Regions from separate parts of the Homo sapiens genome. Here region 2 is reported to be linked to region 1. The links are microRNA targets in miRTarBase. Many come from high-throughput screens and were not tested one by one. Region 1 holds a microRNA gene; the other region holds the end of a gene's coding sequence.

Region 1 (8,025 bases):
AAATAAGAAAGAATGGCCATCACTTAAAGCAACAGAATGTATCTCTCCCACTAGCTCTCCCCTCCCTACCCACAGCTTTATTCACATTTGTTCTATAACATTTCAGCACAGTTCAGACCTTCCGCTGAGCCAGTGTGAGGTCAGGGTGTTGAGGAAGCGAGTCCCTGCAGTCAGACTCCAGCTGGCTGTCGTCCTGCTTCTGCTTATTCCACAGAATGAGTCTGGTGGGGGAGAGGAAATTCCTAACCTGTTTTTTTTTACACATCTTCATCAGAAAAGCGAAAGCACTAATTACTGTCCATAATAAAACTACTGGGAAGGTTACTTAGCTTGTAAGTAAGTTCCACAAAGCCATTTCAGTAAAAACTTCCTGGTTCTAAAATTGGGAAAAGCAGGATAATCCTCTAAGGCTGACATTCTTTCTCTTTTGTGCATTTACAACTAAACGGTCACTGATACACATTTCCACAGTGACCCTGCAATATCCACATTGGCTTTCTTCTAAGACACTTCAAAAATACATCACACCTTTATGTGTTAAATATCACTATTGGCATATATCTTTAAAAACATTTATTTTCTTAATTCTCAAAATACAGAAAAGAATGTTATGCTATTGTGTGCACAAACTGCTATTTTCAATAAGGAGCTCTTAATTTAGAAAGTTGCTATTTTTCAATAAAGAGCTCTCAATTAGAAAATATCAAGAAGTGATGTTAAGTTTTTATGGAAATAAATAAAGTATCATGACATGAAAAGTTTATAATTTTTCCCCCAGCAATGGCTTACTCAGGGAATTTTTCTTATATGTAAAGTTAATGATCTGAAAAGTGGTAATCTTATCATTCACCAAGATTTCAGGATATAAGTTATTCCTACAGAACAATCCATTTTTACCTTTAAAGATGAGTTTGTGTACTTCAGAAGATGTGACGCCAGTTGGCCACCATCTCAATCAGTAGTAAGTCACACCATCAATCCCTTGTTAATGATGGAACTCATGTGAAGTCAAGAGGAAACATAATACTCTTTACCTCATTCCCTGGTAGCAGAGAAGTTGACTCATCTTTAATGTCAGTTATTGAGATGTAACACAGAATCATATTCTACAGAAAATATGTGATAAACTTTACACAAATGAATACACTTTAGAAAGGCAGTCATTTGGATTTTCTTTTTGTCAGAGAACATTGCAAGTCTTCCTGAAGAATTTCTGAGAAATTAAACACTTTATATGACATTTTACAGCATGTAGAGAGGTTGAAACTCAGAGAACTAAAACTCAGATGATAGTCTAAATACTTAATTTGTTGCTGCTTTATGCTGGACATGAAAAGTGTGAGCTTAAATTATAAATAAAAAACTATTGAGCTATCAAACTATTTGGGGTACATCCTTATCTTTCCTCTAAATTACTCTTTATTCCCATTAAAATCCACCTATCCCGGGTCCTCTCTCCTCAGCCCTTCACCTCTGCTTTCAAAGATGACTAACTAACCTAATAAACACATCTAAGGTGATGTGTCAACTTCAACCCCAACCCTTTTTCCCCAGATAACTTGTCTGCATTTCAAGAACAACCTACCAGAGACCTTACCTGTCACCTTGGCTCTCCCACCCAATGGAGATGGCTCTAATGGTAAGGAATTCTATCTTAAGTAAAAGGGAAGGGAAACACGCTGACAGATGCAGTTTTTATAAAGGCAGGTCATTGGGGCACCAAGTTGGCAGCCGCTTTCAACTTTTGATTCTACCTCAAAAGGTAACCAAGAAATCGTTGTTATTCTAAAGATTATGACAAGTCCAAAGTTTCACAGAATCCTGATTTTTATACACTTGCATTAATCACTGCTTACTTCCATGATGTAAACCAAAACTGCAGCGGCAGAATATAGAGAATCAGAATAAATTCTGATAGAAAAGGCAGATACTGTTTCCACATATACAAGTATATGCTAATTGCTTTTAGCAAACTGATCCAAATAGGAATCAACATTATTCCATCTTAATGATTATGTTTTTGATTGGTACACATAAATGTTAAAGTGGGAAAATATGCAGAGAAAGTTACCTAAACTAAATCACTTTAATTTTCAACAACATAATTACATTCCATTTCACCTACTAAAATGGCTTTGGACCTAGAATTTGTATTGCTACATCAATATAAGATGACTTTCAGTAAAAATAGATGTACAGTTGATTTGTAACAACAAATTAATAGTTTTAAATTATTTGTATATTTCAAGGTAAATAAAATTAGAGCTATCCCACAATCGCTTTGGTTATGAAATTCGACCACTGTAACTTTTTTTAAAGAAAACTTTATGGTGTGCAGTTCCTTTGGTATGCAAATATTAAATGGTTGGTGCTGAGAATAAGCAGCAATATAGAAATATATATAATTGTAGAAGAATATAACCTATGATTTAGACATAAAATGAGATCCTTACAAGATAAAGAGTTATGGAGATGGATGATAATGATAGTTGTAGAACATTATGACTAAGTGTTTAATATAGCGGACCTGTACACTTAAAAATGGTGAAGATGTTAAACTTACATTATGTTTACATTACATATTTCACCACAATAAAAAATTTTTGAAGGAAAACCAGAACTTTAATGACAAACTTAGGACATATTATGCTCTGAATATATAGTTTTGATAACGTCTTTCCTGGCAAATCAACAAGGTAAGAATAAAAGGATATTCTGAAATCTTTTTTTTTCTTTGGAGACAGAGTCTTGCTCTGTTGCCCAGGCTGGAGTGCAGTGGCACAATCTCGGCTCACTACTACCTTCTGCCTCCCAGGTTCAAGTGATCCTCCTGCCTCAGCCTCCTGAGTAGCTGGGATTATAGGCGTGCGCCACCACGCCTAGCTAATTTTTTTGTATTTTTAGTAGAGACGGGGTTTTACCATGTTGGTCACGCTGGTCTCAAACTCCTGACCTCATGATCCGCCCACCTCGGCCTCCCAAAATGCTAGGATTACAGGCATGAGACACCACACCCAGCCAGATATTCTTAAATCTTATGCTCACACTCCACCCCCCCCAAAAAAATTGTCCTTCAGGAAAGCATAATTTAAGGAAAAATTTCCCAAAGTGCCACCTTCAGCTTCATTCTTAGCACCAGAGGAAGAATTGCCTGTCATATAATGAAAGATCCTTGGTGTTATCATTAATCTAGTATACATAGTGCTTCCTCTTGGTAGATTTTTACCTACTGTGAGAAGGAATGATTTTGATACTCAGACAGTGTGTAGTAATTTGTTAAGAACATTTAACTTGGAACCTATGCTACACAGTAAAACTTATACTGACAATGGATATTTCATGTGGTAGGCCTAAGAAGTATTGTGGAGTGAGGGGACTGGAAGTATATCTGCAGAACTACCTAGTCAAAGACCCCAGTCTAATTTCTAATATATAATTCATATAAATTACTCTTGCATTGCTATACATTAAACATTATGCTTGTCACATTCTTACTTGGTTAGCACTGTCACTACTGATTGTCAGGCCTATAATTGTGTATAATTCTTCCCCTGCCACTTTACCAGCTGGTGGCCACACCGATTCCAGAAAGAACTACTTTATTTCTTATTACCTCATGAAAGCACCCTCTGCCCAGTGCCTTGGCTAATAGACTGGCCTTTGTTGTCTATGACCACTAATTCCCACTCAGGCATATAGCAATTCTGTTGTTGGTTGCTTAGCCCAGTCAAAAACACTGGAAGTGGACATAGACTCCACACTGATGAATGAATGACCTTCTAGTCATTCTAATGTCCTTAAAAGTCTACTATTTTTAAATTGTAGAATATATATATATATATATATATTTTTTTTTTTTTCTGGGATATTTCTCCTTTCTTCTGTTCATTAATGTTTTTCATCTATCATTGTGTTTTAAATATGACCTAAGGTTCTATAGTATATTTAGACAAACTTCTCATTTCTCTGCAGTGTTCGGAATTCATCATGCCTGTATGACAAGGTTGTGTTTGAGAACAAAAGGGGACCTGTGTGACATGTTTTATTTCAATATACATTTAGAGTTTGAACAAATAAAAAAAGCTATTAGAATTTTTAATATATATAACACATTATCAAAAACACTGTCACTTTTCTGAGTGCTCTAATCAGGCAATTCGTATGTATATTTAAAAAGAGGGAAAAAGCTAATTAGTATACTAAATATATTTATTTTAATACCTGTGCTCATATGTTATCTTTAAAGAACAGGAATAAAATTTATGGGTAGAATAGTATGCCAGCAATTTACCTTCAATACAAATTAAACACATCTTTTAAGAAAAGGGCGAGTTATATTGGCTGGGGTGGCACTAACACTACATTATTAATATGTATTTATTGAGCATTTACTGTGTCCAGGACCCTGTAAGGGGGAAAAAAAGTCCTTGTTTTTACAATCTTTATTGACTGAAATTCTGTAAAATGAATTGAATTCCTGAAGTGACATCATTTAACCCAAATTTTTTCATCATCAACTAATTCATCTCAGAAAACAGTAAAGTTTAAAAAAAAATACTATCAGTAAGAATAATATATTTCCTTGGTTTGGAAATTTCCAAACCACGATATTCTGCCCTGTCAAAATATATTCACTGGGGAATTTTTTACTTCATACGTTTCTTTTGAACTTAGTCACATTTTTATATCTAGCTGGTTTCATTATTAAATAAAAGAAAAGGTGATTCCCCTCTTGTACTGCAGGAGACCACATACTTGAATGATACTCTAACTTCTAGGTTCTGTTATAGTAACACTGAAATCAGAAACCTGTGGGAGAAATGTCACTTTATCTGAGAGAGTAAAATCAGACTCTAAAAGGAAGTAGCAAATTCATCTTGTTCTTTTTTTTAATCAACCCTCTGCCTAAGACAAGTAGTTTGAAACACAGAGGACTCTTTAAGTCATACTTCCTTTATGTAGTCAAAACCAAAGCCACTGGGTAGTGCTTTCCCCAAAGGAATCTCTAAATAGTAGACGGGGACATTTTCAGATAGATTCGTTTGTAGGCAAACCTCCATTGCTTGTATCACATTTCCTGAAAGAATAAAGGTAAAACTTCAACTATGTATTACAGAAAGAAAAATTCAGCCTGAACCCTACCCTTATAAAACAGGTTAATTGGGTTTTAATTTTCATAAATCATAAAGGACTATTTTGAACATTTGGGCCTTTAATTGTCTAGCTCCTAGATGAAGTACAAATCAGAAAAAAAAAAAACTGTACTGTGTCAGAATGCAAGCTTTCCTCTTTGCATTTTGGCATTTGAAAACTCCGAAGAGCGGTTTTTGTTTTTTATTTAAAGAAGATGATACATATGTGTACCCGATTCAAAACTAGAGAATAGAATTTAAAACATAATTTTCAAAGTCTTCAAATATGCCTAAAGGTAACAATGTCATCTTTTAATTGCCAATTTCTCTACCACTTTCAAAAAATTACTTCCAAGGATTTAATGAGCTCCTTCCTTTCAACAGAAAATGGACTATTTTCCTTTCAGATTTACTATATGCTGTCACTCCAGCTTTATAACCGCATGTGCATACACAAACATTTCTTTCTCTCTTGCAGGTGGCACAAACCAGGAAGGGGAAATCTGTGGTTTAAATTCTTTATGCCTCATCCTCTGAGTGCTGAAGGCTTGCTGTAGGCTGTATGCTGTTAATGCTAATCGTGATAGGGGTTTTTGCCTCCAACTGACTCCTACATATTAGCATTAACAGTGTATGATGCCTGTTACTAGCATTCACATGGAACAAATTGCTGCCGTGGGAGGATGACAAAGAAGCATGAGTCACCCTGCTGGATAAACTTAGACTTCAGGCTTTATCATTTTTCAATCTGTTAATCATAATCTGGTCACTGGGATGTTCAACCTTAAACTAAGTTTTGAAAGTAAGGTTATTTAAAAGATTTATCAGTAGTATCCTAAATGCAAACATTTTCATTTAAATGTCAAGCCCATGTTTGTTTTTATCATTAACAGAAAATATATTCATGTCATTCTTAATTGCAGGTTTTGGCTTGTTCATTATAATGTTCATAAACACCTTTGATTCAACTGTTAGAAATGTGGGCTAAACACAAATTTCTATAATATTTTTGTAGTTAAAAATTAGAAGGACTACTAACCTCCAGTTATATCATGGATTGTCTGGCAACGTTTTTTAAAAGATTTAGAAACTGGTACTTTCCCCCAGGTAACGATTTTCTGTTCAGGCAACTTCAGTTTAAAATTAATACTTTTATTTGACTCTTAAAGGGAAACTGAAAGGCTATGAAGCTGAATTTTTTTAATGAAATATTTTTAACAGTTAGCAGGGTAAATAACATCTGACAGCTAATGAGATATTTTTTCCATACAAGATAAAAAGATTTAATCAAAAAATTTCATATTTGAAATGAAGTCCCAAATCTAGGTTCAAGTTCAATAGCTTAGCCACATAATACGGTTGTGCGAGCAGAGAATCTACCTTTCCACTTCTAAGCCTGTTTCTTCCTCCATATGGGGATAATACTTTACAAGGTTGTTGTGAGGCTTAGATGAGATAGAGAATTATTCCATAAGATAATCAAGTGCTACATTAATGTTATAGTTAGATTAATCCAAGAACTAGTCACCCTACTTTATTAGAGAAGAGAAAAGCTAATGATTTGATTTGCAGAATATTTAAGGTTTGGATTTCTATGCAGTTTTTCTAAATAACCATCACTTACAAATATGTAACCAAACGTAATTGTTAGTATATTTAATGTAAACTTGTTTTAACAACTCTTCTCAACATTTTGTCCAGGTTATTCACTGTAACCAAATAAATCTCATGAGTCTTTAGTTGATTTAAAATAATTTTTATGGCCCATTTTCTTTTGCAAAGTACAAATTATAATTCCAGAAGCTATCTGCCAAAAAAAGACAATGGAAGAAAATTATGAGGACACTAAAGGGAACATTCCTGACTCCTAGGACACAGTATTCTCATGTAAGAATACCCATTTGGCTTTGCCCCACTTTCTGTTCAAGTTGTATGTGCTGCCAAGACAAATTTCTTCTCCTCACTTTCTGTTCAAGTTGTATGTGCTGCCAACACAAATTTCTTCTCCTAACACCTGGAATGAGCTTGTGGCTCCACGGAGCTCCCATGTAGGTAGAACACATTCAAGAGTGTTTCTTCAGGCCAGGCACAGTGGCTCACGCCTATAATTCCAACACTTTGGGAGGCCAAGGCGGGTGGTTCACTTGAGGTCAGGAGTTCTACACTACCCTGGCCAACATAGTGAAACCTCGTCTCTACTAAAAATACAAAAATTAGCTAGGCATGGTGGTGCGTGCCTGTAATCCCAGATACTCAGGAGGCTGGGGCAGAAGAATCACTTGAACCCAGGAGGTGGAGTTCACAGTGAACGAAGATCGTGCCACTGCCCTCCAGCCTGGGTGACAGAGTGAGACTCCATCTCAAAAAAAAAAAAAAGTGTCTGTTCAATTCATTTTATCTGCCACTGTATATCTACAAGAGGACTCCTTGCTTTGAGTCCCAGTTCTTCAAAATCCTGCTTGCTGCCTAAAGACACAAAGTCATAGAACATTAGGACTGGAATAAACTATTGTAGTATAACCTTCCTGCTGTTACAATAAAAAGCTATAAACATTACAAAGGCACTTAAAGAAAAGCTGTGCTGGGAAATGCCTTATTTGAAGAGCATTTGGGTACACTCACATGAAGCTTTGGAAAGTTACTTAATCTTCCTCTAAGCCTCAATTTCTTCATCAATAAAATGATGAATATATTTCATATTTCATAAGATGTAGGCTTAAATGAAATCATGCATGTGAAAAGCACAATGTCTATTATGCATTAAGTGTTAAACACAAACTTTCAAACTTTTACATTTCAGTCATTTAAATCAAATGATCTACCATAGCAGATCTCCCCAAAGACACTCTAGCTCCAAACTAACTATAATCAATCCCGTGGTGACGACCCAAAG
Region 2 (7,512 bases), not on the chromosome of region 1:
TCCTTGGCCTCCCAAAGTGCTGAGATTACAGGCATGAGCCACTGTGCCCAGCCAGTGATTTATATTGTTTGAACTCTTCCAATGCATGATCCAATAATTCTAAGCCCTAGGTGATAACTCTTCTAACTCCTCCAACCACAAACAGACTTTCCCCACTGTTTGCAGATCCAGGGCAGCGACGCCGGCTGGACTTTGGGCTACATGCTGAACCTGACCAACATGATCCCAGCTGAGCAACCATTGTCCACACCTCTCTCCCACTCCACCTATGTCTTCCTCATGGTTCTATTCTCCCTGGTCCTTTTCACAGTGGCCATCATAGGCTTGCTTATCTTTCACAAGCCTTCATATTTCTGGAAAGATATGGTATAGCAAAAGCAGCTGAAATATGCTGGCTGGAGTGAGGAAAAAAATCGTCCAGGGAGCATTTTCCTCCATCGCAGTGTTCAAGGCCATCCTTCCCTGTCTGCCAGGGCCAGTCTTGACGAGTGTGAAGCTTCCTTGGCTTTTACTGAAGCCTTTCTTTTGGAGGTATTCAATATCCTTTGCCTCAAGGACTTCGGCAGATACTGTCTCTTTCATGAGTTTTTCCCAGCTACACCTTTCTCCTTTGTACTTTGTGCTTGTATAGGTTTTAAAGACCTGACACCTTTCATAATCTTTGCTTTATAAAAGAACAATATTGACTTTGTCTAGAAGAACTGAGAGTCTTGAGTCCTGTGATAGGAGGCTGAGCTGGCTGAAAGAAGAATCTCAGGAACTGGTTCAGTTGTACTCTTTAAGAACCCCTTTCTCTCTCCTGTTTGCCATCCATTAAGAAAGCCATATGATGCCTTTGGAGAAGGCAGACACACATTCCATTCCCAGCCTGCTCTGTGGGTAGGAGAATTTTCTACAGTAGGCAAATATGTGCTAAAGCCAAAGAGTTTTATAAGGAAATATATGTGCTCATGCAGTCAATACAGTTCTCAATCCCACCCAAAGCAGGTATGTCAATAAATCACATATTCCTAGGTGATACCCAAATGCTACAGAGTGGAACACTCAGACCTGAGATTTGCAAAAAGCAGATGTAAATATATGCATTCAAACATCAGGGCTTACTATGAGGTAGGTGGTATATACATGTCACAAATAAAAATACAGTTACAACTCAGGGTCACAAAAAATGCATCTTCCAATGCATATTTTTATTATGGTAAAATATACATAAATATAATTCACCATTTTAACATTTAATTCATATTAAATACGTACAAATCAGTGACATTTAGTACATTCACAGTGTTGTGCCACCATCACCACTATTTAGTTCCAGAACATTTGCATCATCAATACATTGTCTAGAGACAAGACTATCCTGGGTAGGCAGAAACCATAGATCTTTTGTGTTTACAGCTATGGAAACCAACTGTACCATAAAGATAGTTCACTGAGTTTTAAAGCCAAGCCACATCTTATTTTTCCAAGGTTTAATTTAGTGAGAGGGCAGCATTAGTGTGGAGTGGCATGCTTTTGCCCTATCGTGGAATTTACACATCAGAATGTGCAGGATCCAAGTCTGAAAGTGTTGCCACCCGTCACACAACATGGGCTTTGTTTGCTTATTCCATGAAGCAGCAGCTATAGACCTTACCATGGAAACATGAAGAGACCCTGCACCCCTTTCCTTAAGGATTGCTGCAAGAGTTACCTGTTGAGCAGGATTGACTGGTGATGTTTCATTCTGACCTTGTCCCAAGCTCTCCATCTCTAGATCTGGGGACTGACTGTTGAGCTGATGGGGAAAGAAAAGCTCTCACACAAACCGGAAGCCAAATGTCCCCTATCTCTTGAATGATCAAGTCACTTTTGACAACATCCAGGTGAATATAAAAACTTAATAAAGCTGTGGAAAGGAACTCTTAATCTTCTTTTCTGCTACTTAGGTTAAATTCACTAGATCTTGATTAGGAATCAAAATTCGAATTGGGACATGTTCAAATTCTTTCTTGTGGTAGTTGCCTATACTGTCATCGCTGCTGTTGGTTGAGCATTTGTGGTGTACCACGCTGTGTGCTCAAGGGTATTACATTCATCTTCTCATTTAATCCTCACAACAATCTGAAGAAGGTAGGTATTACAATTCCCACTTCATAGAAACAGAAACTGAGGTTCAGAGAGGTTAAGTCATTTGCCCAAATGGCTGAGCCAAAGCCTACCATGTACCTAACCTTTATTTTCTTTCCCGAACATACCAGGCTGTCTCCTCATAACTTCCAAGCATGCACTTAAAACTCCACATGAATACAAGGTTCATGGGACTTGGTATTCATAGAAAGGGAGGCAGAAAGCTGGTCTGTTCCTGATAGGCTTGTAATTTAATATCATTCTGTTCATGTGCTTTGGATGGAAGCACATCTGGCATATGATGCTAATCAGTGGTTCCCATACCCCTGGCTTCCTAATTTTAATGTTTGCTCACAGCATAGTAGATTGACATCAAATAGTGGCCGATGATGATGAAAATAAAGGTCAAATAAGTTGAGCCAATAACAGCCGCTTTTTTCCTTCTGTCTGCGTATACAAAGCACTGTCATGCACACAATCTATTCTGACCCTCACAACAACCCATAAGGGTGTAAATAGTATTTCCATTTTACAAATGAGGATCACACAAACTACTACATGGCAGAGCAGATACTCCAACTCATGTCTTCTGGTTGAAGCCTATTGCTTTTTCTTTTCTAAACACTTTCCCTCAGCAAGTTGGAATTAGACTTCACAAGTCTCCTTCAGAGAACACAAATCTTTTCTTATTCCATTCCTGTTTGGTTGCCTACGTCCAATCTCCCCCTCCCCAGAGATGCCAAAAAAAAAATCCTTTAAGGTATTTGGGAGCCAAACTCAACTTGTTAAAATCTCAAATTATGGAGACAATCAGCAGACACAACCTAACCCCAATTATTTTGGCAGGAAGGTTGGTTTAGAGGCAGATCCAGCAATCTGCTTTGGGCCACTCTGGGTGGGGTAGGTGAAATAAGATTGGTCACTGTTAACTAATTTTAATATTGGATTGGCCATTGGTTATCACTGATTACCATTCTCCCCTGGATTTTCACCCAGGACTCAAAACTTGGTTCTGCTAACCCTGTTCCTTTATGAGGAACCTTTTAAAGATTCCTTTATAAGGTGGGAGTTTTTTTTCTATGAACCTATAGGGGAGAAAAAAGATCAGCAGAAGTCATTACTTTTTTTTTTTTTTTTTTTTTTTTTTGAGAGAGAGTCTCACTCCATTGCCCAGGCTGGAGTGCAGTGGTGCTATCTCGGCTCACTGCAACCTCCGCCTCCTGGGTTCAAGCAATTCTCCTGCCTCAGCCTCCCGAGTAGCTGGGATTGCAGGTGCCCACCACCACACCCGGCTAATTTTTGTATTTTTAGTAAAGACAGGGTTTCACCATGTTGGCCAGGCTGGTCTCCAACTCCCAATCTCAGGTGATCCTATTGCCTCGGGCTCCCAAAGTGCTGGGATTACAGGAGTGAGCCACCATGCCTGGCCAGAAGTGGTTACTTCTGTAGACAAAAGAATAATGCTACTTAATCAGGCTTTCTGTGTGACAAGAAAGAGAAAGAAAATAAAGAAGTTTCAATTCATCCAATTCTTAATAAGAAATATGTAAATAAAATTTTTTAAAATTACACTTCATTTTAATGTTGTATCAGTCAAGGTCCCTGCAAGAGATGGATGGTATGGTACACTCAAACTGGGTAACACAGGAGAGTTTTCAGAAAGCAACTAAATCCAAAATACTATCAAGGAATCAATATAAAAATTGTTAATATTTTTCTCATACTAAATTTTCAAAATATTTTGTGTCTATTACATTTACAGCACATCTTAATTAGGACTAGCTGTGTGTTCACCTCACATGTGGCTTGTAGCTACCATACTGGACAGCACATGTCCAAAAAAATACACGTAAAGTTAAAGTTTAAAAGACACAGGAACTAAGCCCTCATTGTCTTTCCCTTGGGAGGTAGTTTAAAGAGCTATAGATGCTGTAACATTCTTGCTATTATTTATTATATATGACATTATTCCTAAAAAAGCTTTTGAGATCCTAGGTTGTATTCCTCAGGTTTTGTTGCCTTCCCATGAAGATGTGAAGGCAGGGATGCCTGTTATTCAGTCCAAGATGCATGACAAGAGACCTTGGGAAAGTTTCATCTGGATTTAAAGATTAATTCTTGATGCTTACATTCCATACTCAAAATGTAAATTTGAATATTAAAATAAAGATGATTTTTTTTTTGGAGCTAGTCTTGCTCTGTTGCCCAGGCTGGAATGCAGTGGCATGATCATGGCTCACTGCAGCCTCGACCTCCCAAGCTCAAGCAAGGCTACAGGTGTGCACCTAAGTAGCTAGGACTACAGGTGTGCACCACCATGTCTAGCTATTTTTTTTTCTGTAGAGACAGGGTTTTCCTATGTTGTCCAGGCTGGTCTCGAACTCCTGCCCTCAAGCAATCCTCCTGCCTTGGCCTCCCAAAGTGTTGAGATTACAGGCGTAAGCCACTGCACCTGGCCAAGATGAATATTTTAATAGCTCACAGAACAAAGTTTGCCACATAATGATAAAATTACTATGAAAATATATTCCCTTTATTGTCAGTTTAAAAGATGAACTGAGTTTCACCCAAACTGGTCTGGCCCCTCTCTGATTCAAATACCAATAGTTGCTCTGATTCAAATTCCAACTGTTAGAACATGACAGCTGCTCATAACTAGCTTTGCTTACTAACCATGTTTCTTTCCATTTGTATTAGGTCCTTTACTTTTTATAACAGCCTCAAAGTTTCATGAATTGCTGCAGTAAACATTGATTTTCATGTTTGTGAGTCTGCAAGCCAGCTGGGCAGCTCTACTTCAGGTGGTAAGGGTGGATCAGACCTATTCCATATACCTCTTGTTCTCCTTGTCCAGTGGTTTCTAGGGATATGTTCTCATGATGAACCCCGCAGAGGCTCGTGAAAGTGAGAGGAAACTAGGATGCCTCTTAAGGTCTTGGTCAGGATGGGGTCTCCTGTCACTTCTGTCACAGGCTATTGTAAGTCATATGAGCAAGCTCAATAAAATATAAACAAGTCAGATAAACAGTGGGAGGAATGGCAAAGTCATATGGCCAAGGCCATGAGTGATTAATTTTAACACAGGAAAAAAGTAAAGCATTAAATGCGATTATTTAATATACAATGTCTTATTAACTGAAATATAAAATGTGTTTACTGTAAAATATAATCTGTTTATCTCACCAAAGAAATATTATCTTTAAAAAATGTCATTACTTCTAAGACATCATCAGTCTGCAACTTCTTTCCATAGCCTTAATCAGGATGCTGTGGCAGCTCCCACATTAGCCTCGCATTCTAAACTGGTAGATGTCCTAGGAAACCATACATCTATGTATTTTTCTTATTTTATACGTTTAGGACAATGTATAGCTAATTACCCAACTTTTTATTTGCATACAAATCTAATACAACTGAACACAATCAGTTTTATCACAGGTATAATGGATTTTTCAATAGTGAGGAGGTGCCTCCATGAGCCTTCTCTTTAGAAAAGTGGCATTCAAGACTCTTCATTTGAAGTGAAGATTGCTATGTCTTTTGCATTGCTCTATTTTACATAAATTAAGTTATAAATTGACACTATAATCAACTGACACCATGATCAGTGATGATGATCACCCTCATCAGCACTAGAGTTGACTTGTTTTTATAACCCCTTTGCATGTATGTTGAATAGCAAAGTTCATCAGAGAACATGTATTAGTCAATGGTAAGTAAGATACTCTCATCTAAGAAATAACATCACCTCTTCTAATGAAGTTCTAAGAAGAGAGGGAAGAAAAAGTCTTGGGAGCTAGTCAGGGAATAGTGTGTATTTGCAATTACCTAAACTGAACTCTACCATTACTCCTAACCCAGTTCCTCCTCCTGTGTTTTACATGATTAATGCCACCCCTGCCTCAATGAACCAAGATCAGCTCCATCACTGGGACCTCCCCATTCTGCCTGTGCAATATTTTTCTTTTTTATTTCTCCTTCTAATATTACTGTTATTGCTCCAGTAAAGAGCTGTAATATATTTTACCTGGACTGATACCAGGAATGGTGGTGTTGCTTCCAATCTGTTGCTGCTAGATTAATCTTTGCAAAGCACAGGCTTAATTTCATTGCTGCTCAACTAAAACCACTGGTGGCTTTCCATTGCCTACAAAATAAAGTCAACCTCCCCATCAGACATTCAAGGCTTTCAATGATCCATGGCCGCCAGCTCTCTCCAGGCTCATATCCCACTCCACTCCTCTGATGTTTCCTACACTACACTACACTATACTACACTACAGCCAGGTAGAATGACTGTTCACCCAACACCACTCAGGTTGTCTTCTCAACTTGGAATACTCTTGCACCTTCAAAGCTCATTTCAAATGCCCCTTCATTTGTGAAGCCTTCTCCAAATTTCCAAGTCAGAATGTCTCTTCCTTGTGCTACCACAACCCTTTAACTGAGCCTCCATTAGTGCACTGAGACCATTCTGTTCAGTGTCTGGGTGAAGCTTCCTGGTGAAAAATATGTTACCTATTTCTTTCTGAAAAGTTGGATTCAGGGATATTATCACGGACCTAAGGTAATAGTTCTAGCCAACCTCCCTGTCCACTGCCAGGCCGACTACAAACCCTTCTGTTGCTGGCGAGCTGGTCCGCACCACTAGTTCTGCTTCACTCTATTTATCTCTTGATGTAACCATCTTCTTTCTCCAGGTTTTAAGAACCAGCCCAACTCCTGGTTCCCTGATGAAGCTTTTATTCCCCTAGCCACATGGAACTTTTCCTTTTTGGAACATGCCTTTAGTTTCTGTGTAGTTTGCCATGCAGCACTTCATTGTACACATTATTAAAACAGAATTTTAAGGATTAGAATGAACCTTAAAAGATCATGCATCTCAAAATTTAATGTACATACAAATTACCCAGGGATTTTGTTGAAATAAAAATTATTTAATTTTAATTAATATAAATAATTCAGTAGGTCTGGGGTGAGGCCTGAGGTTTTACATTTCCAACAAGCTGCCAGGTAAAGCCAATACATCTGTCCAGGAATCACACTTTGCGTATCAAAGGTCTAGATGACATTATCATTCCAAAGAGTTTCTTTTACAGGCTCTCAGATCAGTGTTCATCCACTACCTGACTACTGTCATTCACAGGCATTCTGTTCCACAGCAGGCCAGCTAACGTGGTATTTACAAAGCTCACTCCTCTTATACAACAATCCAAGTGTTTCTTTTGTCAGTTGTCTGTGCCCCAGGAGATCCCTCTCTGCCTTGCCTTGCCCTCTGCCTTTGGAGACCAGCACCTCATACTCAGTGAAGGCCTGGAGTGCTTAAGAGGGATTTCTTCCAGCTCTCTTGCCCTGGTCTTCAGTGTATTAGATGTATTACCTCCATGCTCTCAGTAGAGGCCC

The links. Region 1 holds the annotated microRNA hsa-miR-155-5p (UUAAUGCUAAUCGUGAUAGGGGUU, at 5,701-5,724, shown strand). A microRNA usually pairs through its seed, bases 2 to 8, with sites in the 3' UTR of a target mRNA and lowers its output. Matches are read on the target gene's strand: a 7mer-m8 pairs with bases 2 to 8, a 7mer-A1 pairs with bases 2 to 7 and ends in A, and an 8mer does both.
Region 2: miRTarBase lists ENTPD1 as a target of hsa-miR-155-5p. Seed matches in the 3' UTR shown: 7mer-m8 at 1,491-1,497 and 8mer at 5,205-5,212.

What each region holds. Positions count from the first base shown.
Region 1 is chr21:25,568,283-25,576,307 of GRCh38, forward strand. MIR155 (microRNA 155) reads left to right here and starts at 5,698; the gene lies at 5,698-5,762. MIR155HG (MIR155 host gene) reads left to right here. Exons shown (of 3, transcript NR_001458.3): 2 at 1,555-1,639; 3 at 5,611-6,886. RefSeq lists silencers at 933-982, 5,642-5,821 and enhancers at 7,373-7,522, 7,915-7,964.
Region 2 is chr10:95,866,012-95,873,523 of GRCh38, forward strand. ENTPD1 (ectonucleoside triphosphate diphosphohydrolase 1) reads left to right here. Exons shown (of 10, transcript NM_001776.6): 10 at 166-7,512. The coding sequence ends at 372. The region is part of intron 3 of ENTPD1-AS1 (ENTPD1 antisense RNA 1); the gene reads right to left. Among named protein-coding and RNA genes, the nearest start is that of CC2D2B, 38 kb to the right of the region's middle.